4 separate regions of the Homo sapiens genome follow, and regions 1, 2 and 3 are each linked to region 4. The links come from fine-mapping of genetic effects on gene expression. A gene starts in region 4. Each other region holds a variant in brackets. All regions are shown on one strand. Distances are from middle to middle.

What was found.
Region 1: its variant is fine-mapped to the expression of CARD8 in whole blood (Lepik 2017, PIP 0.95).
Region 2: its variant is fine-mapped to the expression of CARD8 in monocytes after R848 (Quach 2016, PIP 0.95).
Region 3: its variant is fine-mapped to the expression of CARD8 in blood mononuclear cells (TOPMed, PIP above 0.99). The same link has a PIP of 0.9 or more in tibial nerve and whole blood.

The regions. Positions count from the first base shown.
Region 1 is chr19:48,280,342-48,288,207 of GRCh38, forward strand. ZNF114 (zinc finger protein 114) reads left to right here. Exons shown (of 6, transcript NM_153608.4): 5 at 2,030-2,156; 6 at 5,420-7,267. The coding sequence ends at 6,537. Among named protein-coding and RNA genes, the nearest start is that of ZNF114-AS1, 12 kb to the left of the region's middle. The variant G/T (reference allele first, on the strand shown) is at 3,172.
Region 2 is chr19:47,997,565-48,005,430 of GRCh38, forward strand. The region is part of intron 1 of ELSPBP1 (epididymal sperm binding protein 1); the gene reads left to right. Among named protein-coding and RNA genes, the nearest start is that of ELSPBP1, 6.9 kb to the left of the region's middle. The variant G/GTT (reference allele first, on the strand shown) is at 3,611.
Region 3 is chr19:48,230,561-48,235,560 of GRCh38, forward strand. CARD8 (caspase recruitment domain family member 8) reads right to left here. Exons shown (of 14, transcript NM_001184900.3): 6 at 3,843-3,983; 7 at 1,893-1,933; 8 at 1,100-1,250; 9 at 217-446; 10 at 1-140. Among named protein-coding and RNA genes, the nearest start is that of CARD8-AS1, 23 kb to the right of the region's middle. The variant G/A (reference allele first, on the strand shown) is at 2,889.
Region 4 is chr19:48,251,916-48,259,781 of GRCh38, forward strand. It overlaps CARD8 (caspase recruitment domain family member 8), which reads right to left and starts at 3,997. Exons shown (of 14, transcript NM_001184900.3): 1 at 3,877-3,997. CARD8-AS1 (CARD8 antisense RNA 1) reads left to right here and starts at 3,760. Exons shown (of 2, transcript NR_040599.1): 1 at 3,760-3,879; 2 at 4,436-6,279. It also overlaps the pseudogene VN1R97P. RefSeq lists an enhancer at 3,866-4,105.

The DNA of each region.
Region 1 (7,866 bases), 28 kb after region 4:
CCACTGCATTCCAGCCTGGGTGACAGAGTAAGACTGTCTCTAAAAATAATAATAAAGTAAAATAAAAAGAAAGTGTTTTTGTCTTAAGGAACTCAGGGTCTCACAGGGGACACTAGGCGTTTATGGAGCGGGCAGTGGCAGCATCTCCCGCAACTGTCATGACCTGCAGATGACAAGCAGTGGACTGAGACGTGCCCCACTCCAAATTTTTTTTTTTTTTTTTTTTTTGAGACGGAGTTTCACTCTTGTTGCCCAGGCTGGAGTGCAATGGCATGATCTCGGCTCACTGCAACCTCCGCCTTCCAGGTTCAAGTGATTCTCCTGCCTCAGCATCCCGAGTAGCTGGGATTACAGGCACCTGCCAGCACGCCCGGCTAATTTTTGTATTTTTAGTTGAGATGGGGTTTCTCCATGTTGGCCAGGCTGGTCTCGAACTCCTGACCTTAGGTGATCCGCCCACCTCGGCCTCCCAAAGTGCTGGGATTACAGGCACGAGCCACCATGCCCGGCCAGGGTTTAAGGAGTAGCCACCCCTCTGTGATAGTTTGTTATAACAGCCTGAACAGGCTAATGCATGAGAAAGACACACAGTTGGTCAACTGGTAGAGATTGAAGTCCGGTCGCGTGACTCAGGTACTCTTTTTCCTGAGACAGGGCCACAGGTGATGGTGTGTGCTGGCTGTCCCAGCTACTTGGGAGGCTGAGGTGGGAGGATCGCTTGAGCCCAGCAGTTCGAAGCTGCCGTGAGCTGCATTTGCACCACTGCACTCCAGCCTGGGTGACAGAGCAAGACCCTGTCTCAGAAGAAAGAGCACCTGAGTCATACGACCGGACGTCAGTCTCTACCAATCGACTGTACCTCTTCCTGTTGCATTAGGCTGTTCAGGCTGATGAAACTATCACAGATGGGGTGGCTTAAACAACAGACATTGATTTTCTCACAGTTCTGCAGGCTGGAAGTCCGAGATCAAAATAGCGGCAGAGTTGCTTCCTTCTGGAGGCTCCAAAAAAGAATTTGTTCCATGCTCTTACCTAGCTGCTGGTAGTCACTGGCGTCCTTGGCATTCCCTGGCTTGTGGACCCATCACTCCAGTCTCTGCCTCCCTCACCAAATGACATTCTTCCCTCTGTTTCCCTCCCTCTGTCCACATTTCCCCTTCTTTTTTTTTTTTTTTTTTTAATTTATATTTTGTTTGTTTTTTTGAGACAGGGTCTTGCTCTGTTGCCCAGGCTGGACTGCAGTGGGAGGATCATAGCTTATTGCAACCTCCACCTCCCAGGCTCAGGCAATCCTCCCTCCTCAGCCTCCCGGGTAGCTGAGACTACAGGCACCCGCCCACACTCACGGGTAATTTTTTTATTTTTTGTAGACGGGTTGTCACTGTGTTGCCCAAGCTGGTCTTGAACTCCTGGCCTCAAGCGATCGTCCCACCTCAACCTCCCAAAGTGCTGGGATTACAGGCATACGCCACTGCAGCTGGCCAGATTTCCTCTTCTTATAAGGACACCAGTCACTGGATTAGGGCCCACCCAACCCCCAGTACAACCTCATCTTTTTTTTTTTTTTTTTTTTTTGAGACAGTCTCACTTTGTAGCCCAGGCTGGAGTGCAGTGGTGTGATCTCGGCTCACTGCAACCTCCACCTCCCAGGTTCAAGCAGTTCTCTGCCTCAGCCTCCTGAGTAGCTGGGACTAAAGGCACCCGCCACCACCATGCCCAGCTAATTTTTTGTATTTTTAGTAGAGACGGGGTTTCACCATGCTGGCCAGGCTGGTCTCGAACTCCTGACCTTGTGATCCACCTGCCTCAGCCTCCCAAAGTGCTGGGATTACAGGTGTGAGCCACCGCGCCCGGCCACAACCTCATCTTAATTCATTGACATCTGCAAAGACTCTAGTTCACAAATCAGGTCACCTTTGCAGGTACCAAGGGTTAAGACCTCAACCTACCTTTTTCTGTGGAGAAAGGGGTCACAGTTCAAACTGATAACAGGACACCCCTCCGAGCCAAACTGCATGTGTTATTTTAGGACTCGGTGACCTTCGCAGACGTGGCTGTGAACTTCACCAAAGAGGAGTGGACCCTGCTGGACCCAGCTCAGAGGAATCTCTACAGAGACGTGATGCTGGAAAATTCTAGGAACTTGGCATTCATAGGTAAGGAGGCCCCCTTCCTGCACTTAGTCCGTGATGGGACCAGTGCTGGTTTGGAACCGTGTTCTGGGAAGTGCATTGGAAAATGGGAACTGGGTTAAATTCCAGAGACACAGCTGCTGCCCCCCAGGTAGTAGGTGTAGGGTTCACCATGAAACTGGAAGTCAGTTTGTTGCATTACTTTATTTATTTTATTTTATATTTTATTTTATTTTATTTTATTTTATTTATTTTTTGAGACAGGGTCTCACTCTATCTCCCAGGCTGGAGTGCAGCGGCATCATCTCAGCTCACTGCAACTTCCACCCCCCAGGTTCATGCAATTCTTCTGCCTTAGCCTCCCTAGTAGCTGGGAATACAGGTGCACACCACCACACCTGGCTAATTTTTGTTTGTATTTTTAGTAGAGGCAGATTTCACCACGTTGGCTAGGCTTGTCTTGAACTCCTGACCTCAAGTGATCCTCCCACCTCGGCCTCCGGAAGTGCTGGGATTACAGGCGTGAGCCACCACACCCAGCCTTTATTTTTCTTTTCATTAAGATGGGGTCTCACCCTGTCACCCAGGCTGGAGTGAAGTGGCACCATCTCGGCTCACTGCAACTTCCGCCTCCTGGGCTCAAGCAATTCTCCTGCCTCAGCCTCCTGAGTATCTGGGATTACAGGCATGCTCTACCACCCCCAGCTAATGCATTACATTTTTATTCTCTTCGTGATTGAACAGAATTTGGGGGATCCTTATGTAGGTGAACATGGTGCACAGGAAAAGGGTCGTTTTGAGCCCTTTTGGCAGAGTTTTAGTGCATTGATGAGAAAAGTAGAGGGACCACTGTTGCACTTCTATTCACACATCATCAGCTTCAGAACCCCAGCAAACCAAAGCCTGTGTCCATTTGACAGAAAGTCTCGGCACAGTTCCTTTATACCACATGCTTGCCCAGTGAGCAGGATTTCAACTAGGCAAACCCAGTCTGCCCTCTCATTTGGAGCAAGAAGTGGTCTGAAAACAGTGCAGGGCA[G/T]TTTTGTCCAGGCATTTATGCATCTCAGTACCAGGTAGATGTGAACATTACAGGACCAACAGGTTTGTAAGCCAGCAGCATGGTAACAGAGCAACAGGCTCGCCACTGAGACAGCAGGGTTTGCAACAGAGAAAAGAGAAAGTTGCATGATTACATGGTGCCAACCGAGGAGATGGGAGGAGACGCTCAAATTCTTCTCCCTGGGGGGTTCTGGGGTTTTTGTTTTTTTTTTGTTTTTGAGACTGTGTTTCACTCTTGTTGCCCAGGCTGGAGTGCAGTGGCGCGATCTCGGCTCACTGCAACCTCCACCTCCCGGGTTCAAGCAATTCTTCTGCCTCAGCCTCCCGAGTAGCTGGGATTATAGACATGCACCACCATACCTGGCTAATTTTTGTATTTTTAGTAGAGACGGGGTTTCACTGTGTTGGCCAGGCTTGTCTCAAACTCCTGACCTCAAGTGCTCCGCCCACCTCGGCCTCCCAAAGTGTTGGCATTACAGGCATGAGCCACTGCTCTCATTTTTAAGGGGATCATGGAGGATAAGGGACTGGAGAATTGGAGACGTTGATTGGTCAGAGGAAGGGGGATGAAATCATCGGGATGAGGAAAGTACATTCTTTGGTGCGTCAGTTTCTCACGGCATTCCTCAGATCAGTGAGCATAGTCATTTCATCAGAATGCAGGACCTGAAGGAATATCTCAAAGAGAAAACTTAATGTTTTATAATTTTCAAGTTGTTATCTACAGAGCAGCTAAGGAGACCTATAGGCCAGGCACAGTGGCTCACACCTGTAATCCTAGCACTTTGGGAGGCTGAGGCAGGAGGAGGATTACTTGAGGCCAGGAAGTCGAGACCAGCCCAGCCAACATGGCAAAACACTGTTCTTTTTGTCTTTAAAAACAATTTTTTTTTAATTAAAAGGAAAAAAAAAGAAAGAAAAAAACAGGCACTCTGTTGCCCAGGCTGGAGTGCAGTGGCTCAGTCTCAGCTCACTGCAATCTCTGCCTGCCGGATTCAAGTGATTCTCCTGCCTCAGCCCCCTGAGTAGCTGGGATTACAGGCACACGCCACCATGCCCAGCTAATTTTTCTATTTTTAGTAGAGACGGGGCTTCACCACATTGGCCAGGCTGGTCTCAAACGCCTGACCTCTGGTGATCCACCCACTTCAGCCTCTCAAAGTGCTGGGATTACAGGCGTGAGCCACTGTGCCTGTCCAAGCTTATGTTTTTTGACTTTTATCCATCCTCTCATATTTTCATTTTTCCCTGCTAAAGGCCTGTTCCTTTTCTCCTTAAAATTGCACATGGAGCCAGCTACTCGGGAGACTGAGGCAAGAGGATCACTTGATCCCAAGAGCTCAAGGCTGCAGTGTGCTGTGATCACACCTATGAATAGCCAGCCACTGCACTCCAGCACCTGGGCAACCTAGTGACACCCTCATCTCAAAAAAATAAAAATTTCACATGGACTCTCTGTCCAATTCTCTTCCACTTAGAATTCCTGATCGTTTCCTTGATCTCTGCAGAACTGTTCCTCAGTAACATGACACTCTCCATGTTGAACCCCTGACCTTACCGTCATCACATTCCTGACACTGCAGAATCTCTGATGTCTTTCTCTGCTTCCTTCCTCTTGCTTTCTTCCCCTTCACATTTTTATCATACATGTTGAGTGAACATTTAGAAAGAAATCCACACAGAGGCCTGGCGCGTTGGCTCATGCCTGTAATCCCAGCACTTTGGGAGGCTGAGGCAGGTGGATCACATGAGGCCAGGAATTCAAGACCAGCCTGGCCAACATGGTGAAACCCCATCTCAACTGAAAACACAAAAATTAGCCAGGCATGGTGGCACGCACCTGTAATCTCAGCTACTCAGGAAGCTGAGGCCAGAGAATTGCTTGAACCTGGGAGGCGGAGGTTGTAATGAGCCAAGATCATGCCACTGCACTCCAGCCTGGGCCACAGAGTAAGACTCTGTCTAAAGAAAAGAGAGAAAGACAGAGAGAACGAGAGAGAGAGAGAGGAAAGAAGGAAGGAAGGAAGGAGGAAGGAAGGAAGGGAAAGAAAGAGAAAAGAAAGAAAGGAAGGAAGGAAGGAAGAAAGAAAGGATGGAAGGAGCGAGGGAGGGAGGGAAAGAAAGAAAGAAAGAAAGAGAGAAATCCACACGGAGATTGCCTATGTCATCATCTCTAACCCACCTTTACTTTCAACAAAGAATTTAACTTTTGTGCCACTGTATTTCAGATTGGGCAACTCCATGTAAAACCAAAGACGCAACCCCTCAGCCGGATATTCTTCCTAAAAGAACATTTCCTGAAGCCAACAGAGTGTGTCTCACGAGCATCAGTTCCCAGCACTCCACATTAAGAGAAGACTGGAGATGCCCCAAAACAGAGGAACCACACAGGCAGGGGGTGAATAATGTGAAGCCACCTGCAGTTGCCCCTGAGAAAGATGAATCTCCTGTTAGCATTTGTGAAGATCATGAAATGAGGAACCACTCTAAACCTACCTGCAGGCTTGTGCCTTCACAGGGAGATTCCATAAGACAATGTATCCTAACACGTGACTCAAGTATTTTCAAGTATAATCCTGTCTTAAACGATAGTCAAAAAACACATGAAAACAACGAAGACGATGGAGTCTTGGGGTGGAACATTCAGTGGGTTCCGTGTGGGAGAAAAACAGAGCTGAAATCAAGCACATGGACTGGCAGTCAGAACACTGTGCATCATATACGTGATGAAATTGATACGGGGGCCAACAGGCACCAGCGGAATCCATTTGGAAAAGCTTTCCGTGAAGACGGATCCCTTAGGGCACACAACACTCATGGTCGAGAGAAAATGTATGATTTTACTCAGTGCGAGAACACCTCCAGAAATAACTCAATTCACGCCATGCAGATGCAGTTGTATACCGCAGAGACAAACAAGAAGGATTGTCAAACTGGGGCAACCTCTGCCAACGCTCCAAATTCCGGTTCACACAAGAGTCATTGCACTGGAGAGAAAACCCATAAATGCCCCGAATGTGGGAGAGCCTTTTTTTATCAGTCATTCCTTATGAGACATATGAAAATTCACACTGGAGAGAAACCGTATGAATGTGGGAAATGTGGGAAAGCCTTTAGATATTCCTTACACCTTAATAAACATTTAAGAAAGCATGTTGTGCAGAAGAAGCCCTACGAATGTGAAGAATGTGGGAAAGTCATTCGGGAGTCCTCAAAATATACACATATAAGGAGCCACACTGGAGAGAAACCCTATAAATGTAAGACATGTGGAAAAGACTTTGCAAAGTCGTCAGGACTTAAAAAACATCTTAAGACTCACAAAGATGAGAAGCCCTGTGAATGAAAGGAAGGTGGAAAATTTTTCATTAATTTTCTGACTGTACCAAACATGTGAGGAGGACATATTGGAAGGGAGCTCAAGGGGTTAGCATGAGTGAGAACATCTTCCCTGAACTCTCGTATCTTACAGAAATGTGAAAAAAAACCCTGTGAAGGTAAAGTCTACAGAAAGCCTTTCATCTTCATTCATCTTGAGTAGACATTTGTTCTCACCCTGGAGAGAAACTGCGAATCTAAAAGGAATATGACAAAGCCTTCAGCGTGGTCTCAAATTCATGGTTCATACAAGAACTCACACTGCAGAGACTCCTTACGGAAATAAAAAATGTAGGAAAGACCTGCCGGCCGCGGTGGCTCATGCCTGTAATCCCAGCACTTTGGGAGGCCGAGGCGGGCGGATCACGAGGTCAGGAGATCAAGACCATCCTGGCTAACACGGTGATACCCCGTCTCTACTAAAAATACAAAAAAAATTAGCCAGGCGTGGTGGCAGGTGCCTGTAGTCCCAGCTACTTGGGAGGCTGAGGTAGGAGAATGGTGTAAACCTGGGAGGTGGAGCTTGCAGTGAGCCGAGATGGAGCCACTGCACTCCAGCCTGGGGGAAAGAGCGAGACTCCGTCTCAAAAAAAAAAAAAAGTAGGAAAGACCTCTTTAAACACTTACCACTCATGTTGCATGTGAATCCACATCCTGAAGGGAGGCTACAACTGGAATAAAAATAAGAAAGCTTTCAAGGCCTGGTGCAGTGACTCACACCTGTAATCCTAGCACTTTGGGAGTCCAAGGTGGGGGATTGCTTGAGTCCAGGAGTTTGAGACCAGCCTGGGCAACATGGAGAAACCCCATCTCTACAAAAAAAAAAAAAAAAATGCAAAAATTAACCAGGAGTGGTAGCACATGCCTGTAGTCCCAGCTACCTGGGGAGCTGAGGCAGGAGGATCGCTTGAGCCTGGGAGCTTGAGGCAGCAGTGAGCTGTGTTTGCACCACTGCACTCCACCCTGGGTGACAAAGTGACACCCTGTCTCAAAAAAAAAAAGAAAGCTTTCAGGTCCAGCCTTTCACTTAGGCACAATGAGCGCACAGTAGGACTGAAACACTGTAAATGTTCATGATTTTCCAGTTTTTCCTTTCTAAAAAAAAAAATGCTACAAGATGAAGGATATCCCTCTTTGCACACTCCCAGCTCTGCCACATAAATGTTGGTATATAGCAGGTTCATTATAACTCACATACACGTGGTCTCATTTTCAATGTGAAGCCTTCTTTGAGCCTCATTCAATTTAGACTTGGGATTCATATACTCCATGATACCATTTTTGTCTTATTGGTCAC
Region 2 (7,866 bases), 250 kb before region 4:
CGCGTGATTTTTTTTCTTTTCCTTATTTATTTATTTAATAGACATGGTGTCCCACTCTGTTGTCCAGGCTGGTCTCAAATTCCTGGTCTCAAGTGATCCTCCCACCTCAGCCTCCCAAAGTGCTGGGATTACAGGTGTGAGCCACTGATGTGATATTTTGATACATGCAGACAGTAATGATCAAATCAGGGTATTTAGGATATCCATTACTTTCAACATTTATCATTTCTTTGTGTTGGGAATATTGCAACTCTTCTCTTCTAGGTATATACATAATTAAATTGTTTTTAAAGACATAAGTCACACATCTGTGATAAAAACTTAATTGGAAAGAAGTCTCCTATTTACCCCTGGTTCCCACTTCCAGAGGTGATTGATATCAGTGGCTTCTCACATGCCCGCTCAGGAAAACACTCTGTACATGTATGTGCATGGGGAACACAGATGCAGTGTCTTGCTGAGAACTACAAGGCTCTGACCTAGGTTTGCTAGTGTCACCATCTTTTCGTTCCTCTGCACTTACTCCAAAATTGGTAGTCAGCAGCTTCCAGTAAAATCTCAAGGATGGCCTGGGCGCGGTAGCTCAATCCTGTAATCCCAGCACTTAGGGGGGCTGAGGTGTGTGGATCATGAGGTCTGGAGTTCAAGATCAGCCTGGCCAAGATGGTGAAACCCCGTCTCTACTAAAAATACAAAAATTAGCCGGGTGCAGTGGCAGGCGCCTGTAATACCAGCTACTCGGGAGGCTGAGGCAGGAGAATCGCTTGAACCGGGGGACAGAGGTTGCAGTGAGCTTAGATCGTGCCACTACACTCTAGCCTGAGTGACAGAGTGAGACTCCATCTCAAAAAAAAGAAAAAAAATCAATCAATCAATCAATCAATCTCAGGGATTGGGCTAATGAGCCCGGGCATGCGCATTAAGAGACAAAATGGCAGAGTCCGGGGCGCGGTGGCTCACGCCTGTAATCCCAGCACTTTGGGAGGCCGAGGCGGGCGGATCACGAGGTCAGGAGATCGAGACCATCCTGGCTAACACAGTGAAACCCCGTCTTTACTAAAAATACAAAAAAATCAGCCGAGCGTGGTGGTGGGCGCCTGTAGTCCCAGCTACGCGGGAGGCTGAGGCAGGAGAATGGCGTGGACCCGGGAGGCGGAGCTTGCAGTGAGCCGAGATCGCGCCACTGCATTCCAGCCTGGGTGACAGAGCCAGACTCCGTCTCAAAAAAAAAAAAAAAAAAAATGCAGAGTCCAACCTTTTGGGGGACATTTCACTGGAAAGGGAAGAAAGTCTCAGACGAGCTTGTGTACAAGTCCAGTAAACACACCGCGCATGCTCACTTCCCAAGCCTAAAGGAGGCACTGCGCATGCGGGAGGCCCACCCTAAGGGGAAAAATGAAGGGTCCAGCCATGTGGCCCTCCCTTCTGTGCGTCAGAACATGTCACATTGTTTCCCACATCAGCAGCTTTGCCCTCACTGATCCCTGTGCCTGGAATGCTTGTTCCTCACACTGTGTGTGGCTGACTCTAGGTTTTGGTTCAAACATCACCTGCTCAGAGAGGCCTTCCCTGACCACCAAAGGAGACATCTGTCAGGCATGATTGTTTACATTCCCCTGTTTATTATTTTTTTTCATTGCACTTTTCATATTCTGAAATGATTTTGGTTTTGGTTACTGTGGTAGAATACACATAAGATTATGATTTTAACTATTTTAAAGTGCACAATTTAGTGGCGACAAGCACATTCACAATGTTGCACCATCATCACCATTATCTATTTCCAGGAACTTGTCACCACCCCATACTGAAAGCCTCATTTCTTTTTTTTTTTTTTTTTTTGAGAAAGAGTCTCGCTCTGCCACCCAGGCTGGAATGCAGTGGTGTGATCTCGGCTCACAGCAACCTCCACTTCCTGGCTTCAAACAATTCTGGTGCCTTAGCCTATGGAATAGTTGGGATTACAGGCATGTGTCACCACGCCTGGCTAATTTTTGTATTTTTAGTAGAGATGGGGTTCAACATGTTGGCCAGGCTGGTCTTGAACTCCTGGCCTCAAGTGATCCACCCACCTCGGCCTCCCAAAGTGCTGGGATTACAGGCGTGAGCCACCACCCTGGTCAGAAAACCTCATTTGTATTTTGTCTTTCCCACCCTAGTAAAATATTAGCCTCATGCAAGAAGGAATTTCACCTGTCCAGTCTACCGACAACTCCACATAGTAGGAGGAACACAACAAATATTTATCACATACGTGATTTTTTTTTTTTTTTTAGGAAATGGGGTCTCGCTCTGTCATTCAGGCTGGAGTGCAGTGGTGCAATCATAGCTCACTGCAGCCTCAATATCCTGGGCTCAAGTGATCCTTCCCCCTCAGCCTCCTGAGTAGCTGGGACTACAGGTGTGCACCATCTTGCTCAACTAATTTTTAATATTTTGTAGAGAAGGAGGGGGTCTCACTACGTTGCACAAGCTGGTCTTGAACTCCTGAACACAAGTGATCCTCCCACCTTGGCCTCCCAAAGTGCTGGGATTACAGGCCTGAGCCCGCACGCCCAGCCTATGTTTACCATGATTATTTGTTGAGCACTCAGCATGTGCCAAGAACTCTGCTTACATTGTATCATTTCATTCTTCCCCCACCCCGGCCGCCCCCCAAAAATCCTGCCCCCTCCCCCATCCCCCATAGATGGAGTCTCACTCTGCCCAGGCTGTAATGCAGTGAGCCAAGACTGGCACGATCTTGGCTCAGTGCAACCTCTGCCTCCTGGGTTCAAGCAATTCTCCTGCCTCAGTCTCCTGAGTAGCTGGGATTACAAGTGCGTGCCACCACGCCCAGCTAATTTTTGTATTTTTAGTAGAGACGTGGTTTCACTATGTTGGTCAAGCTGGTCTCTAACTCATGACCTTGTGATTCGCCCTCCTCGGCCTCCCAAAGTGCCGGGATTACATTCATTTCATTATTAAACAGTCCTACGGGATAGATTTCAGTTGTCTCATATATAGAAAAGAAAGCTGAGAGTCAAATACATTCCATAACACTCTGAAGGTCACACGGATGAGCAGAAATTCGTATACAGGCTACCCTTTTCCGAAGCCACAACCACTTACGTATTTCTCCATTGTGGAGATGAGGACTCCGAGCTGTGCGTGTGTCCATGGAGCCACACAGCTGGCTTGAGAGGGAGCCTAAGGTTAGACACCTTTGCTCCGTACCTGTTCCAGGATGGCTGATTCAAATGGGACAGAGATAATGAAAATGATAACGATTAATATTTACAAAGCACGTTTTATGTGGCAGGCAGGGTTTTCAGCCCCCTGTGTGTGCATTAGTTTTCTGCAGTGGCTGTAACAAATCCCCACACACCTAACCGACTTGACACACATTTGTTCTCTTACAGTTCTGTGAGTCAGTCTCACTGGGGCTAAGATCAGGGTACCAGCCAGGCTGCATTCCTTCTGGAGGCTGTAGGGAAGAATCCGCTTCCTGGCTTCTTCCAGCTTCTAAAGGTCGCCTGCATTCTTTGGCTCGTGGCCTCTTCCTGGCATAACTCTAACCTCTGCTTTCTGTTGTCACACCTGGTTTTCTGACTCTCCTGCCTCTCTCTCT[G/GTT]TTTTTTTTTTTTTTGACACAGAGTCTCGCTCTGTTGACAGGCTGGAGTGTGGTGGTGCAATCTTGGCTCACTGCAACCTCTAACTCCCTGGTTCAAGAGATTCTCCTGCCTCAGCCTCCTGAGTAGCTGGGATTACAGCTGAGTAGCTGGGATTACACCACACCCAGCTAATTTTTTTTTTTTTTGTAGTAGAGACGTGGTTTCACCATGTTGGCCAGCATGGTCTCAATCTCCTGACCTCATGATCCTTGTGATCCACCCGCCTCGGCATCCCACCACCTCTCTTTTATAAGGGCCCTTGTGATGACATTGGGTCCATCTGGGGAATCCCGGATCATCTTCCCATCTCAAGATCCTTAGCTTTATGACATCTGCAAAGTCTTCCACACTCCTTTTTTTGAGACAGGGTCTGGCTCTGTCACCCAGGCTGGATCATAGCTCACTGCAGCCTCAAAACCCTGGGTGCAAGTGATCCTCCTGCCTCAGCCTCTTGAGTAGACAGGACTACAGGCATGTGCCACCATGCTAGTTTTCTTTCTTTTTTTTTTTAAGATTGTTTGTAGATAGGGGTCTCACTGTGTTACCTAGGCTGATCTCGACCTCCTGGGCTCAACCAGTCCTCCCACCTCAGCCTCTCGAATAGCTAGGACTGCAGGCATGTGCCACCATGCTGGCTGTTTTTTTTTAATTTTAAGATTTTTTGTAGATACGAGGTCTCACTATGTTGCCCAGGCTGATCTCAAACTCCTGGGCTTGAGTGATCCTCCTGCGTCAGCTTCCTGAAGTGCTGGGATGACAATTATGAGTTACCATGACTGGCCCGCAAAATCCACTGTGCCATGCAACCTAGCATATTCGTGGACTCTAGGAATTAGGACGTGGACAGATTTGTGTTGGGTGGGTATTATTCTACCCACCAAGCGTCTATGAACGACACTAACATTCTGTAGCAGCAACAGTGATCACCATCCCTTCCACTGTGCGGATGAGGACTGAGACCCAGGAAACTCAGTACTTTGTTGGGGTCACAAAGGTAGTAAGAGGCAAAGCATGGAAACCCAGGTGGTTGGGCTCCAGGGCAGGCTCTTTCTGGCATTATAACCTTCTGCCTGTCTGGATCTTAGCATCTAAGCCAAAAATTATTCATTTGAATCTTGAGGAGAAGGGTCAAAATGAAAGCTTGAGGTTAATGAACCAATTAAGGTGTAGGAATTGGGGTTTTGGGCCAGGCAGGAATATAAGCATGACACTGCAGGTAGTCAAGGGTTTAGAGGAGGTGGCAAAATTTGTCTCTCCCCCATCTCCATAAATAGTAATTAAAACATCTCGCTTGGGCCGGGCGCAGTGGCTCATGCCTGTAATCCCAGCACTTTGGGAGGCCCAGGTAAGCAGATCACTTGGGGTCAGGAGTTCAAAACCAACCTGGCCAACACGGTGAAACCGTGTCTCTACTAAAAAGACAAAAAAATAGCTGAGCGTGATGGCTCGTGCCTGTAATCCCAGTGACTCAGGAGGCCGAGGCAAGAGAATTGCTTGAACCGGGGAGGCGGAGGTTGCAGTGAGCTAAGATCGTGCCACTGCACTCCAGCTTGGGGTGCAGAGCAAGACTTCATCTCAAAAACAAACAAAAATTCTGGCTTGTATGCTGTCTTCATAAATAGTAATGAAAATATCTGGCTTGTATGCCCCCTCTGACATTTACACAGTGCTTTCCAGCATCTGCTGCATGTATAAGATCCCAAGGTGGAGTTTATTCTCCCTCATTTGATGATTGGAAAAACTATCCCCATATTTTCCTGTGGTTTGACTCCATAGCCACAGCAACCCTTTTTCCGACCAGCCAAGAAACAGCAGCGGTGGCAGGATGCTGGTCCCAACCACCCCGGGGCTCAGGACAGAGGGTTCTCCAAGCATCTGAACCTGCCAGTGCCCAAAGCATAACTTGGTCCTCACCTGGATGTTCCAGACGAGACATGGGTGTCTGGCTATTAGGGCTTGTTTTACAGTTGAATAATTATTTTGAATGGCCCCTAAAATATTTTCTATGAATATCCATAACTTGGTCTGTGCAGAGTCATAAACCTTCCAGACCATCAGTTGCTACCAATTCTTCGAATTTGCACAGAACTCTTTATTGCACAAAGAAGCAAGCCATGCAAATAGCTGGGGTCAAGGGATCATCCCAGGCAAAGAGAAGAGCGAGTGCAAAGGCCTTGAGGTGGCTTCTGCAGGAAACAACTAAAAGGCAGATCGAGGGAGGGGAAGGAAGATAAGAAATGAGTTTGAGGGAAGGCACAGTATGGACTAGGGATTGTATTCTAAAGGTGATGGAGGATTTTGAATGAATAAATGCCACCCCTGCTCTTTTTTTTTTTTTTTTTGATGGAGTCTTGCTCTGTCACCCAGGCTGGAGTGCAGTGGCACGATCTCGGCTCACTGCAACCTCCGCCTCCTGGGTTCAAGTGATTCTCCTTCCTCAGCCTCCTGAGTAGCTGGGACTACAGGCACCTGCTACCACGCCCAGCTAATTTTTTTTTTTTTTGTATTTTTAGTAGAGATGGAGTTTCACCATGTTGGCCAGGCTGGTCTCGAACACCTGACCTCAGACGATCTGCCCACCTCATCCTCCCAAAGTGCTGGAATTATAGGCATGAGCTACCGTGTCCGGCCCACTCCTCCTCACTTTAACCCCTCCCGTGGCTTCTGGTTGCTTCTATTCTATTCTATTCTATTCTATTCTATTCTATTCTATTCTATTCTATTCTATTCTATTCTATTCTATTCTTTTGAGACAGTCTTCCTCTGTTGCCCAGGCTGGAGTGCAGTGGTATGATCTCGGCTCACAGCAACCTCTGCCTCCTGGGTTCAAGCGATTTTCCTGGCTCAGCCTCCCGAGTAGCTGGAATTACAGGCACGCACCATCATGTGGAGGGAATTTTTGTACTTTTAGTAGAGATGAGGTTTTACCATGTTGACCAGGCTGGTCATGAACTCCTGACCTCAGATGATCTGCCCGCCTCGGCCTCCCAAGGTGCTGGGATTACAGGCATGAGCCACCACACCTGGCCTTCTGGTTGCATTTAGAATCTGAGGGAGGCTCTACAGGGTCCGGTCCCATCCATCTCACCATGCATCTCTGTGGCCTTGCTCCTCCTCACTTGTTGTAGAGACGAGGTGTCACTGTGTGGCCCAGGCTGGTCTCAAACTCCTAAGCTTAAGCCATCCTCCTGCTCAGCCTCCCAAAACACTGGGATTATAGGCATGAGCCACTGTGCCCAGCCTGGGCCTTAGCCATGCGGGTCCCACTTGCTCCTTGAGCACATCTAGCTTTTTCCATCTCAGGCAGTTTCCACGTCGGCTTCTCCTGCCTGGATGTATCCCCCACCCCCATACCTCCAGCTCCTCTCACGTCTCCCTCCTCCATCTGTTCCTCCAGGTGTCAGCTTACCTGTCATTTCTCAGAGCACCCTCCCCTCACCTCTCAATCAAAAGTGACCTTGTCCTAGTTGTTCCTGAGACTCGTCCACAGCAATGATCACAGCGAAGAGTTGTATTTGTTTCTGGTTTCTTCGCTTCATATCTGTCTCCTTGGTTGACTCTCAGCCCCACGAAGGCAGGGCCTATGCCTGCTTTACCCACTGCTGCATACTCATCGTGTAGCCCTGGCCCCACATCTTTTAAATGCTCAATAAATACTCATTCCTGAGTGGATGCATAAAGCATGCATCAGGAAAGGGCCCATACTGGGCACAGTGGCTCTTGCCTGTAATCCCAGTGCTTAGGAGGCTACGCAGGAGGATGGCTTGGGCTCAGGAGTTTGAGACCAGCCTGGGCAACATAGCAAGACCTCGTCTCTACAAACAATAATAATAGTTTAAAAATTAGCTGGGTGTGGTGATGCGTGCCTGTAGTCCCAGCCACTTGGGAGGCTGAGGTGGGAGGATCACTTGATGGGAGATGGAGGCTGTAGTGAGCCATGATGGCGCCACTGCACTGCAGCCTGGGTGACAGAGCAAGACCCTGTCTCAAAAAAAAAAAGAAAAGAAAAAAGAAAAAAACAAAAAGAGAAAAAGAGCTCAGCCTTGTAGAGGAGAGAGGCTGGAGGCTGCATATCAGTGAGGCAACAGGACAACAGTTGAATAGTTGAGAAGAGAAATGAAAAAGGCCTTCCTTTAGTCTTTAACAGCAGAGGCAGGAAAAGCGGATAGATTCAGGAGCTCCAGAAAGTAGAACCAACTGACTGATAGAACACAGC
Region 3 (5,000 bases), 23 kb before region 4:
CCGCAGCAGGATGCCCATCAGAGAGAAGCTGGGGCTTTCCAGGACAGCATAGAAAGGCTCCACCCGGGCTGGATGCTCCAGGACCATCCCTTCATTCTTAAAATGGGCAACGAGAAACCAGGAGACGTCCACCTCACCTGCTGCAGGAGAACCACAACAGCAGTGAGACGGCACGCACCCCAGCGGCCCCCACAGCCTCCGCTCACCCCACATTACCTTGGAGGGAGATGAAGTGGGGGAGGTGGATTTCGGCGACAGCCTCCTCTGGCTCTGCAGTGACATCAAACAAGGGGCCGCCCACCAGCCACTGTTCATGGTGCTGCAGGTCCAGGGCCAGGTGCTGACTCCAGGAACCAAACGCAATCGTCACTGTGACCTCATCCCTTACCAGGAAGCCGAGGCCTGTGGCTGACCACAGATACCAGCCAGCAGTGGGGAACCAAACGCTGAAAGGAGCCAGAGTGATGTCATGACGGGAGAACCCCAGGACTTGGATTTAAGCAGCGATGTGCAGAGGGAGGTGGGATTTGAAGTGAGGCAAGGTTCAGGACCCATCTGCGACTTTCACTACATTAGAAAACGCTGGGGAGTTCATTAACCTCTCTGGGCCCCAATTTCTCTGCATTCTATATATGTTGAAATTAAAATACCAACTTCACAGTGCATGAAATAAACATATTATTGATGAAATTTTAGCTATCATAAGGGATGGAACCGATACGCTTCCTTTTGTATTTATATTTTTATTTATTTATTTATTTTGAGACAAAGTCTCGCTCTGTCTCCTAGGCTGCAGTGCAGTGGCGAGATCTCATCTCACTGCAACCTCTGCCCCCTGGGTTCAAGAGATTCTCCTTTCTCAGCCTCCTGATTAGCTGGGACTACACGCGGGTGCCACCACGCCTGACTAATTTTTGTATTTTTAGTAGAGACAGGGTTTCGTCATGTTGGCCAGGCTGGTCTCGAACTCCTGACCTTGTGATCCGCCCTCCTCCACCTCCCAAAGTGCCGAGATTACAGGCCTGAGCCACCACGCCTGGCCTACACACTTCCTTTATATCAGAGTGGTTTTCAAATCATCAGCATCTTCCATTCTTACCTGTATCTGTTTGTGCTCTTATCAATCAACTCAACATCCACATTTCCTTCAGGCCCCAGAAACTGACGATTTTTATAATCTTCTTCGATCTCAAAACAGACTTTAGAAGCATAAGAGGAAACTATTTGATTCTCTTCTGAGCAAATGTCTCCTGAAAAGAAAATACTAGACATGTAAGAGGTAAAGGGTTGGAAGAGGCATGGCCTGAAGGACTCCTGGAGGCTGAATTGCACAGGTGCTGTTGGGATACAGATATCGAATGAGAGCTGAGAGTGACCAGAATATGCAGTTTCGCTTCTTTGAATCCAGACAAAGAAAGGCACAAGAATGTTCCTTGTCATGACTAAACGTATACACCAAATTCCATAAGACTTTCTGGGAAGCCAGGCTGGACAGCTTTGGTGGGAGGCACCATTTGCTGAGGACTGGAACCAATGCACCTACATTTCTACTGGTCCGAAATAGCAGAAGACACTTTCTGCTGGTGAGGAAAGTCCAGGTCAGAAAAGTATCGAACTCCAAAGATGCAGAGGCGAAAGAGCGTGCATCCTTCCTAGGCCCTGCTGCTGTCCCCAGCCACCAGGACCACCCACTGACTCCCCTGAGCATTTCCATGCCCCAGCAGTGACAGGCTTACATGTCCCCATTTAAACTGCACAGTGCACTGTGGCAAAGGTAAGGGAAAGCACTCCTGATCTGCACAAAAGACTCTAAATTGTCTTCTTCACATAAAATCACAGAACATTTCCATCAATCCACACGCCCTTCACTCCTCTCCCTATTAGCCCATTACCTGAATCTTGTCCCTCTGAAGATTCCTGCTCTTCTGATACACTGGAGGTTGGGATCCCCATGTTACAAAAAGATGAAAAACATCAAGAATCAGTTGATGAAGATGAAGACGATGTTATTGAAAACTAGAGCTGCACTGTCCCGTAGAGTAGCCGCTACCCGGATATGCTATTTAAATTTGTATGAATTAAACTTAGGTAAACTTTAGTTTCTCAGTTGCACTATCCATATTTCAAGTGCTCAACAGCTACATATCACTCACGGCTATAACACTGTGTAGCAGAGAATGGAACACTCCCGTCATCACAGAAAGTTCTCTTAGACTGGGCGGATCTAGACTATCAAGAAATAGAAGACATTTTGAATGAAGATATTTTTATCCACATTTATAAATAATAGAGATAACACACTCCCTTGAGCCAAATGTGTCTTGACATCTCTCCTTCTTCTCTTTGTATTATGCCCACGTTCAATGTGGACACAGCCAGATTCTCTGGCTTAAATTGATTGCTCCGATTGGTATCATACGATGTCGGAATCAAAGACTGAAGCAGTAATTCACCAATGCGTAAAATGTATGCATTTATATTCCAAGGTAATTCCAAACTTGACCACACCTGGGAAGCTTTAAAAACCACCCAATACCAGGTCACAGCCCACATCAATTGAATCAGAAGTCTGGAGGTGGCACCAAAGCATCGGCGCTTTCAAAGCCTCACAGGTGATTCCAATATTAGCCAATATGGGTTCTATGACATACAGCGTGAGCCAATGGTTCGTCATGCCTCTGGAGAGAAACCTGCCCTAACACAGGTGATACCTTCTGGAGCAAGGCAACCAACTCCATCAAATTCTCTGCCTTTGATCCATTCCTTGAGATATCTGTTTATTTCGACGTGAAAGAGACCAGCAGAGAAACTGACACGTGGATTAGGTTTAAAAAGAACAGGTACCTAGAGAAGTGGGATGAAGAGAAAGGCTTTACAGCGCTTTTCTC[G/A]GAAGGATTCTGTGGGCAAGCCAAGCATGGAGAGACCCCTGGGCTGACATCCTAAGACTGGTTGCTGTCTGCGGCTACACATTTTGCTATGGATTCGGGTAGCTACAGGCAAAGCAGCAAGAGTAAACATGCCATTTTATATTCTCTTTCCTGGTGCATGTGCATGCTGGAGTCTGCCTGCTGAGGAGGGGTTTAGAAAGTGGGAGGAACCCAGCGCTGAACTGCAGACAGCGCATCCCAGATCATGAGAGCTGACGGTTCCATTTTCAGGGCTTTTGCAACCAAGTTGTTCAACACAACCATTAGTCTAAATTAAATGATACAAGCTAACATTTAAATAAATCATATTAAAAACAAAAGTAATACATATTAAAACATACCAATTTCCAGTCATTTTTCTACACTTTTCAGCAGTCTATGCCCTTGAGGTTATTTATGTCTCTTGTATCTGTGTGGTGAAAGCAGGATGACAGACTTCTGCATGTGTTCTTTCAACTCCCTCATCAGGGGCTTCACGTTGGTAGTTTGAAATCTGCCATGATGGGGATATTCAACCCTTGGAAATTGGCATACCCTACAAATAGACGCATTCTCCCCTCCCCGGTGTTAAACCTCAGGACCCCACTGTGGCCTTCAGCCTCATCATCAGCCAGTTTCCTAGAGAATTAGGTTGGTTTTATGTATTGAGTAACAGCTTAACCAATAACCCACTGGTCTTCGATTGCATTGCTCATTGCCTTTTTGTGTATAGGTTCTCTAGACACCTCCATGGAAGAAAACCTCATTGCTTAAGGTTTGTTTCAAAAATTTCTGGATTCATTGCTAGTATTGCATAAGCTCATTCATTCTCCCCTGAGTTCGATGAAAAACACCCAAATTCCTCTAATTCTCATGTTCCTCTGTGATATTGAGACACAGCGTCCAATAGTTTTCCAACGGAATAGCTTTTCTTACCTGGGAATGTCCCCCCCAGATAGTTGACACTCAGGAACAGCACGGAACAATAATGGCTCTGCCTCTGTCTCATCATCTTCTTGGAAAAAATGTGAGATGTCACAAAGGGTCTCAGAAACACAGGGTAGCTCCCTGTATACCCTGGAAAACAACAACAGAATTTTTACTATGAATATAAGGTAGGTGCCTGATGATAGCATAGGCTGTGCAGGAAGATTTTATGTTAATAGCCATAGACTCAATATTTTATCTTAGGGAAGTCATTCCTCAGGCCCCTACGACTCCATCTCACCTCTCAGACTCCCATGACTCTTTCTTACATCTCATTATGTTAAATTTAACTGGCTCTCTGTTTCCCACTATATGCTGCTCTTTCCATCCTAGGAAGCAGACGTCAGTCAGTTCTCAACATCTAGCATTTGCCACAAACATTGGTTTCATAATAGGTCAACAAGTATGTTGACCTATATAACCTTGCTAAGAATTTTAGGGAAAGGATGAGATTCCTAATTTGTAGTCTCCCTTCATCCATAATTGGTGCCCGAGAGAATAGGACCCTAAAATGATTGGGATTGCAGGGCATTAGTGAGATTGGGCATGTTTTATAAGAACCCATGGAACAGTTATCTCCTCTTCTCCCTTCTGCCTGCAAATGGTGAGAGGGGTTGCATAAAGCAACAAAAATGCTCACAGAAAAAGAAAATTATGGATATTGTACACACTTTCTTTTCCCATCAAGGATCCTTATTCAGATATGGAACATGAGAGTCCTATGCTAGATCCTTTTCTCTTCTTCATTTTTGAAGGCTTGGTGCTGTCCTCCTATGGCTGGCAGGAATCAAGATTGAGGTTAGGAGTGATGGAGTGTCCTTTATGCCAAGATATTCAATGGCCAATATGACAGCCACTAGCCACACCTGCCTATTTACATTTAGTTTTAAATTGTTAAATGTGAAAATCAGTTCCTCCTTTGAAGTAGCCATATTTCAAGTGCTCAAAAGCCACACGTGGCTCTTGCCTGCCACCATGTAAGACATGCCTTTGCTCCTCCTTTGACTTCTGCCATGATGGTGAGGCCTCCCCAGCCACGTGAAACTAAAAGAATTTTTCTGGGTAATGGACATAGGCATAGGACGTCTGGCAACAAAATCTGCTTTG
Region 4 (7,866 bases):
CCATACCATCCTCCTGCTGCTTGGTTGCTTTGTGTGCTTTTATTGCTCAAACAACTTCATCACTCTTTATTTCTTTTATAAATCTGAGAAAAAATCAAGACTAGAGATGATCACTGGAATTATTTCATCATGCTACCCAACCATCTGCCCTTTTGTGCTAATAAAAAATAATAAAATTATTTCCTAATTTACCTCTTCCTCTCTAAGACAAGAATGATCAGCTCTCAGGGAGCATTCAATGGCTGATCTCAAACCCCATACTTTCTTCTGCAGCTGGGAAGTCTCCATGATGACTTTTGTGGAGAAAAAGTCATGCAGTTATTGAGCAATTGAATTAGGGCTAGTTTGAATTGAGGTGTATCATAAATTTAAAAAGCATTCAGGTTTTGAAGTCAATATAAATAACAGTATATAAATATTATCTTAATAACTTTCACATTGCTGACAAGTTTAAATTATGACATTTTGGGTAAAACGTATGTATATGTTTTGTTATGTTTACATATATATGCATATTTAAATAAAATACATATACACAAATATGTAAGTAAAACATATGTAAGAATATATATAATATATATAATTTTTTTTTTTTGAGACAGAGTCTTGCTCTGTCACCCAGGCTGGAGTATGCAGTGGTGTGATCTCAGCTCACTGCGGCCCCCACCTCCTGGATTCAAGCAATCCTCCCACTTCAGCCTTCCGAGTAGCTAGGATTATAGGTGTGCACCACCATGCCTGGCTAATTTTTTTGTATTTTTTAGTAGAGACAGAGTTTCCCCACGTTGGCCAGGCTGGTCTAGAACTCCTGACCTCAAGTGAACCGCCTGTGTCAGCCTCCAAAAGTGCTAGGATTGTAGGTGTGAGCCACCGCACTGGCCTTATCAGTATATACACACACACACACACACACACACACACATATGTGTATACATATACAACTACATAGGTATTTTTAAACTAACTGTATCTGCTTGTTTTTGCTTTTTTAAATGCAGTTGCTAGAAAATTTAATATACATTTGGGGCTTGGATTATATTTCTGTTAAACTGCACTGCTCTATGGCACTTCTTGTATTCATTCCACAAATACATTTTGCACATGTTCCTTATTCTTGGTACTATTTAATGGGTTGGACATACATCCATGATCTAAACAGATAAAACATAATAGCACAAGAGATTATACAGAATGTTTGTGGTACAGGAAAACGTATATGTACACATGATAGGAGCTAAAAAGAATAGGACTGGTTAAGAGAATGTGGTGTGTGAGAGTACAGGTGCAGGGAGCTGCAGTGACTGGGATTACAGGTATGCATCACCATGCCTGGCTAATTTTTGTATTTTTGTAGAGACGGGGTTTCACCAATTTGGCCAGGCTGGTCTCGAACTCCTGGCCTCACGTGATCCACCTGCCTCAGCCTCCCAAAGTGCTGTAATTACAGGTGTGAGCCACCGTGCCTGGCCAACATTTATCATTTTAAATACTCATCTGCAAAAATGTTTCCAAGTGGGGCCACTTCCCCACCCCTCATATGACAGTGGCAGTGATATACCATATACATGGTTATTAAAAAGAATCTGGAGCAACAATATGAATGTCAGACAAATTAGGCTTCAAGAGCATTTCCCTCCATCTTACAGGGGATAAACCCAAAGAAGTTATATTAAGATTCCAATAAAAGAATGCAAGATGACTATCTGTGTAAAAATGTAATCAATGGGGAGCAGGTGCACCTCCAATAATATTAGACAAAATATATTTTACCTAAACAGCATTACTAAGTATAAAGTAGATCACTTCAATAAGAATAACAATTTTAATTTTGTGTATACATATTCACACTTTCAATATGTATATAGTATACACGGGTAGAATGATAAACAGATATAGAATAATCCTCCACTCTTGTGGGAAATCTGTTCAATAGTCTTTCAGCAATTAACAGAATAACAGAGTATCAGTAAAGATATAAAAAATTGACCAAAGCAATTCATATTCTTGACTTAAGTGCCCTAGAATAACAACTCACACAGCCATTGAAGAATCCCCATCATCCTATCTCAAGCATAGAGGAAACACATAGCATACATATGTAGCCACATAGCAAACACAGAAATGACTATCAACAAAGTGGAAGAGTTTAATGCACAGATTAAGTTATCTGAATATATGTACAATGAGTTATAAATAATAAATAATTGAGCCAGGTGAAGTAGTACATGCCTGTAATCCCACCTACTTGGGAGGCTGAGGTAGGAGTTTGAGCCCAGGAGTTTGAGTCTGGTCTGGGCAGCATTGCAAGATCCCATCCCCCAAATAATAAATAAACTAACTAAGTAATCAATAATTGAATGAGAAAAGTTAGCTCATATTTCAATATGTTCAATCTTAGGATATATACTTCTAGGCAACCACTTAGTGACAAAAATTCTGTAGAAATCCATCATTGAAAGTTCATTATGTAAATAAATGTGAAGACTAGATAAGAACCACAGAACACAATGACATTGGAAAAAATGCCACAGTAATTCTTTGAAAAAAGAAATGCAGGCCTGGTGCGGTGGCTCATCCCTGTAATCCCAGCACTTTGGGAGGCCGAAGTGGGCAGATCACAAGTCAGGGGTTCGAGACCAGCCTGGCCAACATAGTGAAACCCCGTCTCTACTAAAAACACAAAAACAATTAGCTGGGTGTGGTGGTGGGCACCTGTAGTCGCAGCTACTCGGGAGGCTGAGGCAGGAGAGTGCTTTCAGAGAAACTTCTTGATCACAAGGGGAAATCTGAAAGTTGTCAGAACAAAATGGAGTCACTTATGTTAAGATAACCCTGACAAATAGAGCCAGGAAGGCCATGAAGAGAGGGCTCTTATCCTTGCATGCCTGAAGATGAAAAAGACTCTACAAAACCCACAACCTTACATAAAGGTCTTCACAACCTTAAAAAAATATATATTTCTGCAAGGAATGCTGCCCAGCAACTGCTGGTCCAACCTAGGACTAATGTCACCCTTGTTACTGATCTTTGTAGCCAAGGAAAATTCTGTTAAAACAATATGCAATCCTCCCCATTTCTGTCTTCCTTTATCTCCCTGAATATACACATAGTTTAATACGGCATGTCTATTCCCAATTGCAATGCTCTATTCCCAAATAAACATTGTTTCCGGCTGGGCGCAGTGGCTCACGCCTGTAATCCCAACACTTTGGGAGGCCAAGGCGGGCTGATCTCGAGGTCAAGAGACGGAGACCATCCTGGCCAACATGGTGAAACCCCGTCTCTACTAAAAAATAAAAAATTAGCTGGATGTGGTGGTGCACGCCTGTAGTCCCAGCTACTTGGGAGACTGAGGCACGAGAATCGCTTGAACCTGGGAGGCAGAGGTTGCAGTGAGCCAAGATCATGCCACTGTACTCCAGCCTAGCCACAGAGCGAGACTCCATCTCAAAAAGAAAAAAAAATTGTTTCCCTTAGGAAGCTTTCATATGTTTGTTAGTTAGGTTAACACTTCTAATAATTAAAGTTATACAGTTACAGTGTAAAATTATTAGTATTAACAACATAAACATTGGTATAAAAATTATTATTACAGAAATTAAAACAAATTGAGTGTGAGAGAGATTATTAAGACTGTCCAAGCCAAGTCACTGAAGTCATAAATTTAAGTTATGACAGGATGCCGAGCTTCCAGAGGGTTTTGTTTTTAACAAGGGAGGGGCCCTATTTCCCCTTCTGACACGCTCATATGAACTTCTCACTTTGTCGTACTCCTTCCTTGCTGACTAAGAGGAACAGAACACAGAGCAGCCTGGCGGTGTCCTACCAACAAGCCTCCGTTTCTCCTTCCTGTACACTAGGGCTCCTGAAACTCACCTGGTAAGCGCTCCAGAAAAGCAGCAGGTGGTGACTTTAGGGTAGGACGGGCCAAATGGGAGAATCCCCTTAGGTCGGTTTCTCTGGTTCTCAACTTCTTTTGAAATAACGCTCGCAGAGGAGGTGGGCTTTCTGAGAACTGAGGGAAGTAAGCTCTCAGGACTTCCGGTCGCCATGATGGCTGTGGGCAGTCAATGGGGTCAGTGCAAGCATCTGGGCCATCTTTAATGTGGGCAGGAAAAAAACACGATTACACTTACTTCTGCAGAGTTTATAATATCCTTGTTCATTATTTAAAATAAAATATCTAAGACATAGGTAATAGTATATTTTAAATAAAATTGAAGCAATATATGAAATTTCTCTGGAATTCATCCAGCCACTCTCAGCTGTTACCACTATCCAGAAACGTCTTAATCCGCCTGCATGATTTATGTATTTGGTTTGTATTTTAAATATCATTTTCTGTAATATTTAAAAGTTGTATTTGCTTGGTATCCTGCTATGCATTCTCATGCAATTTGATTTTTAATCAATATTACTTTTTTTTTTTTTTGAGATGAAGTCTCCGTCTGTCACCCAGGCTGGAGTGTAATGGAGCAATCTCGGCTCACTGCAACCTCTGCCTCCCAGGTTCAAGCGATTCTCTTGCCTCAGCCTCCCGAGTAGCTGGAATTATAGGTGCATGCCACCACGCTCGGCTAATTTTTTGTATTTTTAGTAAAGACGGAGTTTCACCATGTTGGTCAGGATGGTCTCCGTCTCTTGACCTCGAGATCAGCCCGCCTCGGCCTCCCAAAGTGCTGGGATTACAGGCGTGAGCCACTGTGCCCGGCCTTGGTTTCTAAATACTATTTTGAAGTATCTGTGGAGAAATGGTTACTTCGAGGGCTGGGGCAGGAATATATAAGATAACATTGGAACAAATTCTGACGCCAGAACATGAAGAAATATTTGAAAAAGGATGGGGCATATTGACTGAACACAGAAGACAAACATGCATGACCTCAGCCTAATCGTGAGAAAACATCAAAGAAATCCAAATTGATAAACATTCTGTAAAATAATTGGCCATGCTCAGCAAAAGTGTCACAATCACAAAAGACAAGGGAAGAATAAGAAACGGTCACAGCCTGGAGGAATCTAAGGACATAACAACTGAGTGCAATGTGAGATCCTCGATTCGATCTTGGAGAAGAAAGAGGACGTTAAGAGAAATATTGACAAAATTCAAATAAGGTCTGCACATTAGGTAATGGTAAGATACGTTGACATCAATTTCCTGGTTGGATACTTGTATTACATATACTATTATGTATATAATTATTATATTACAATTACATATACAGTTGTATATTATATATAATACAATAAATGTATATATATGATTATAATACAATAAATGTATATATACAGTTTTATATATAACAACTATTATACATATAATACAATTATATATATAGCTAACATCAGGATAGGCTGGTTGAGGATTTATATGAATCTTTGCTAATTTTGCATGTTTAAAATTATTTCAACATAAAAAAATTATATGGGTCATGTAGTTTTTTGTGCAGTTTAATTCTAGGCACCATAGTTTCTGTTTTAATGGGTGTATTTTCTTCTTTCAAGGAATTGGGATAGTCTGTTGTATTAAAAACCTATTCATTTTTGTACATTAAGATTCTTCTGGCCAGGCGCAATGGCTCAAGCCTATAATCCCAGCACTTGGGAACCTGAGGCAGGCAGATCACCTGAGGTCAGGAGTTCAAGACCAGCATGTCCAACATGGTGAAACCCCATCTCTACTAAAAATACAAAAAAAATTAGCCAGGCATGGTGGCACATGCCTGTAATCCCAGCTACTTGGGAGGCTGAGGAGGAGACTCACTAGAACTCAGGAAGCAGAGGTTGCAGTGAGCCAAGACTGCGCCACTGCACTCTGGCCTAAGCAACAGAGGGAGACTCCATCTCAAAAAAAAAAAAAGATTATTTCTCTAACTTACTGGTTTATCTTTTATAGCTTATTTCAGGTGATTTGTTGTGTTTGTCTATAGAGTAAAATAACATGTCTAATGAGTTATAATTTAATGTCCTTCCATTCAATCACTGTATTTCAAATTTATTCCAATATTTTGGAATAAGCTTCCAATATTTTAACTTAAATAGGGAAGGTCATACTTGGTATTTTCCTGACCTCAGCTGGAATGCCTTCATAGTGTTCACATGAACACATTTGGCCTGAGAGAGACTTATTATGCCGAGAATGTGTGTAACCCTTTTTACTTAGGAATTGTGGGTGGAGTTTTTCCCCCCGCCCAAGAATGATTGTTAATTTCCGTCCATCATTTTCCTTTGATTGTTCTTCATCTCGAAAACAAATAATAAAATAATAAAATAAATAAATAAAACTTACTGGTCTTCTCACCTATTTTCTTGCAGTGCCTTTAAGCAATGCTCTGCCAATATCTTTTTCTTAATTATTATGGAATGCATGGGACCGTTCCATGCCTGATTATATGCAGAATGTTCTTTCTACAAGTGAGTTTTTGTAGTATTTCTGTACTCTGCCATACTAGGGCATTTCTCTGTTTTCAAGGATCTCCCAACCACACCGCCTCTACCACATTTATCTCCTGCTCAGCCTCCACTCCAACTGCCCAGACCTCACAGCTCTTGTATTCAAACTCTATCGATAAATCACCGAGTATGAGGCTTTACTCACAGGAAATTACTCTTCTGGCACTTCCTGACTTCTTTATGTTTTCTCACTCTGCACTTCCTCCCTGTTCCTCCGCTATGCTTCACCCTGACTTAACACAGTTTTGTCAGCCAGTGAGAAACATGTGGATCTGTGAATTCTATCTGTCTCCTCGTTATTCTGAAAATGGAGTTTGCATGGACTTTTCCGTTCACCTTATTGCTTTCATTGATACTCAGTAATAGACAAGATAAACTGTTATTTCTCATTGCCTTGTTCATTTCAGAAGTACCAGGTAGAATTTTACAATTCTTGCCTTGATACATATTCCCAGTAATTGTTGAGTGATTTAATTGTATGTTGTCTTGATATTACTTTGGTCATATATTACATTATTTCTCATTTTTGAATATCTGGATTTACATAAATTCTGTGTAATTCAGGTTTGTATTTATCCAAGTTCTCAGAAACTACAACTGCTGTAATTGATCATAACTCTCCTAATACAGGTGTAACTAAAGTGAGAGATGCTTTTTGACTCATGAAAAAAAGAAGACTGTAGACCAAGTCTCAATAACTTCCACTTAATCCTATAGAAAGTTAGCCAAGATAATGTACACCTTCTTTAAGATTCTTATAAGGAAAAGATTCCATTTTGTTTCTTGAAATGAGGTATTGCTTTGTCGCCCAGACTGGAATGCAGCGGTGCCATCATAGCTCACTGCGACCTTAAACTCCTGGGCTCAAGGGATCCTCTCACTTCAGCCTCCCGAGTAGCTGGGACTACAGGCACAAACCACTGTGCCTGGCTTCATGAGAAAAAATTAAATATATAATGGTACTAGGTAAAATAATACTAAATAAGAAGTAATTTGAATGCATACTATATTAACTCTGGAATAACGATACTTAAGTAAAAGAAAAGTGTTCGTTACAACAAAGGGAAGCTTGTAGTTCAGAGGATAGCTAAATTAAATTTGTTGCAGGCTGTGAGAGACATAACAAACATAAACACATGAAATATGTAGATTTTTATATTTTTATTGAAAATTGGATAGAAATATTTGGTTTGTTCAGTTGGAACATGTGAGTTGATTATTATGCATATAAATAAACAGACATTCAGTGTAGGGGCCAGCCCTACAGGGTCTGTGGGTCTTTCTCCCGTTGTGCGGAGACGAGAGATCGTAGAAATAAAGACACAAGACAGAGAAATAGAAGAAAAGACAACTGGGCCCGGGGGACCACTACCACCAAGATGCGGAGACCAGCAGTGGCCCCGAATGCCTGGC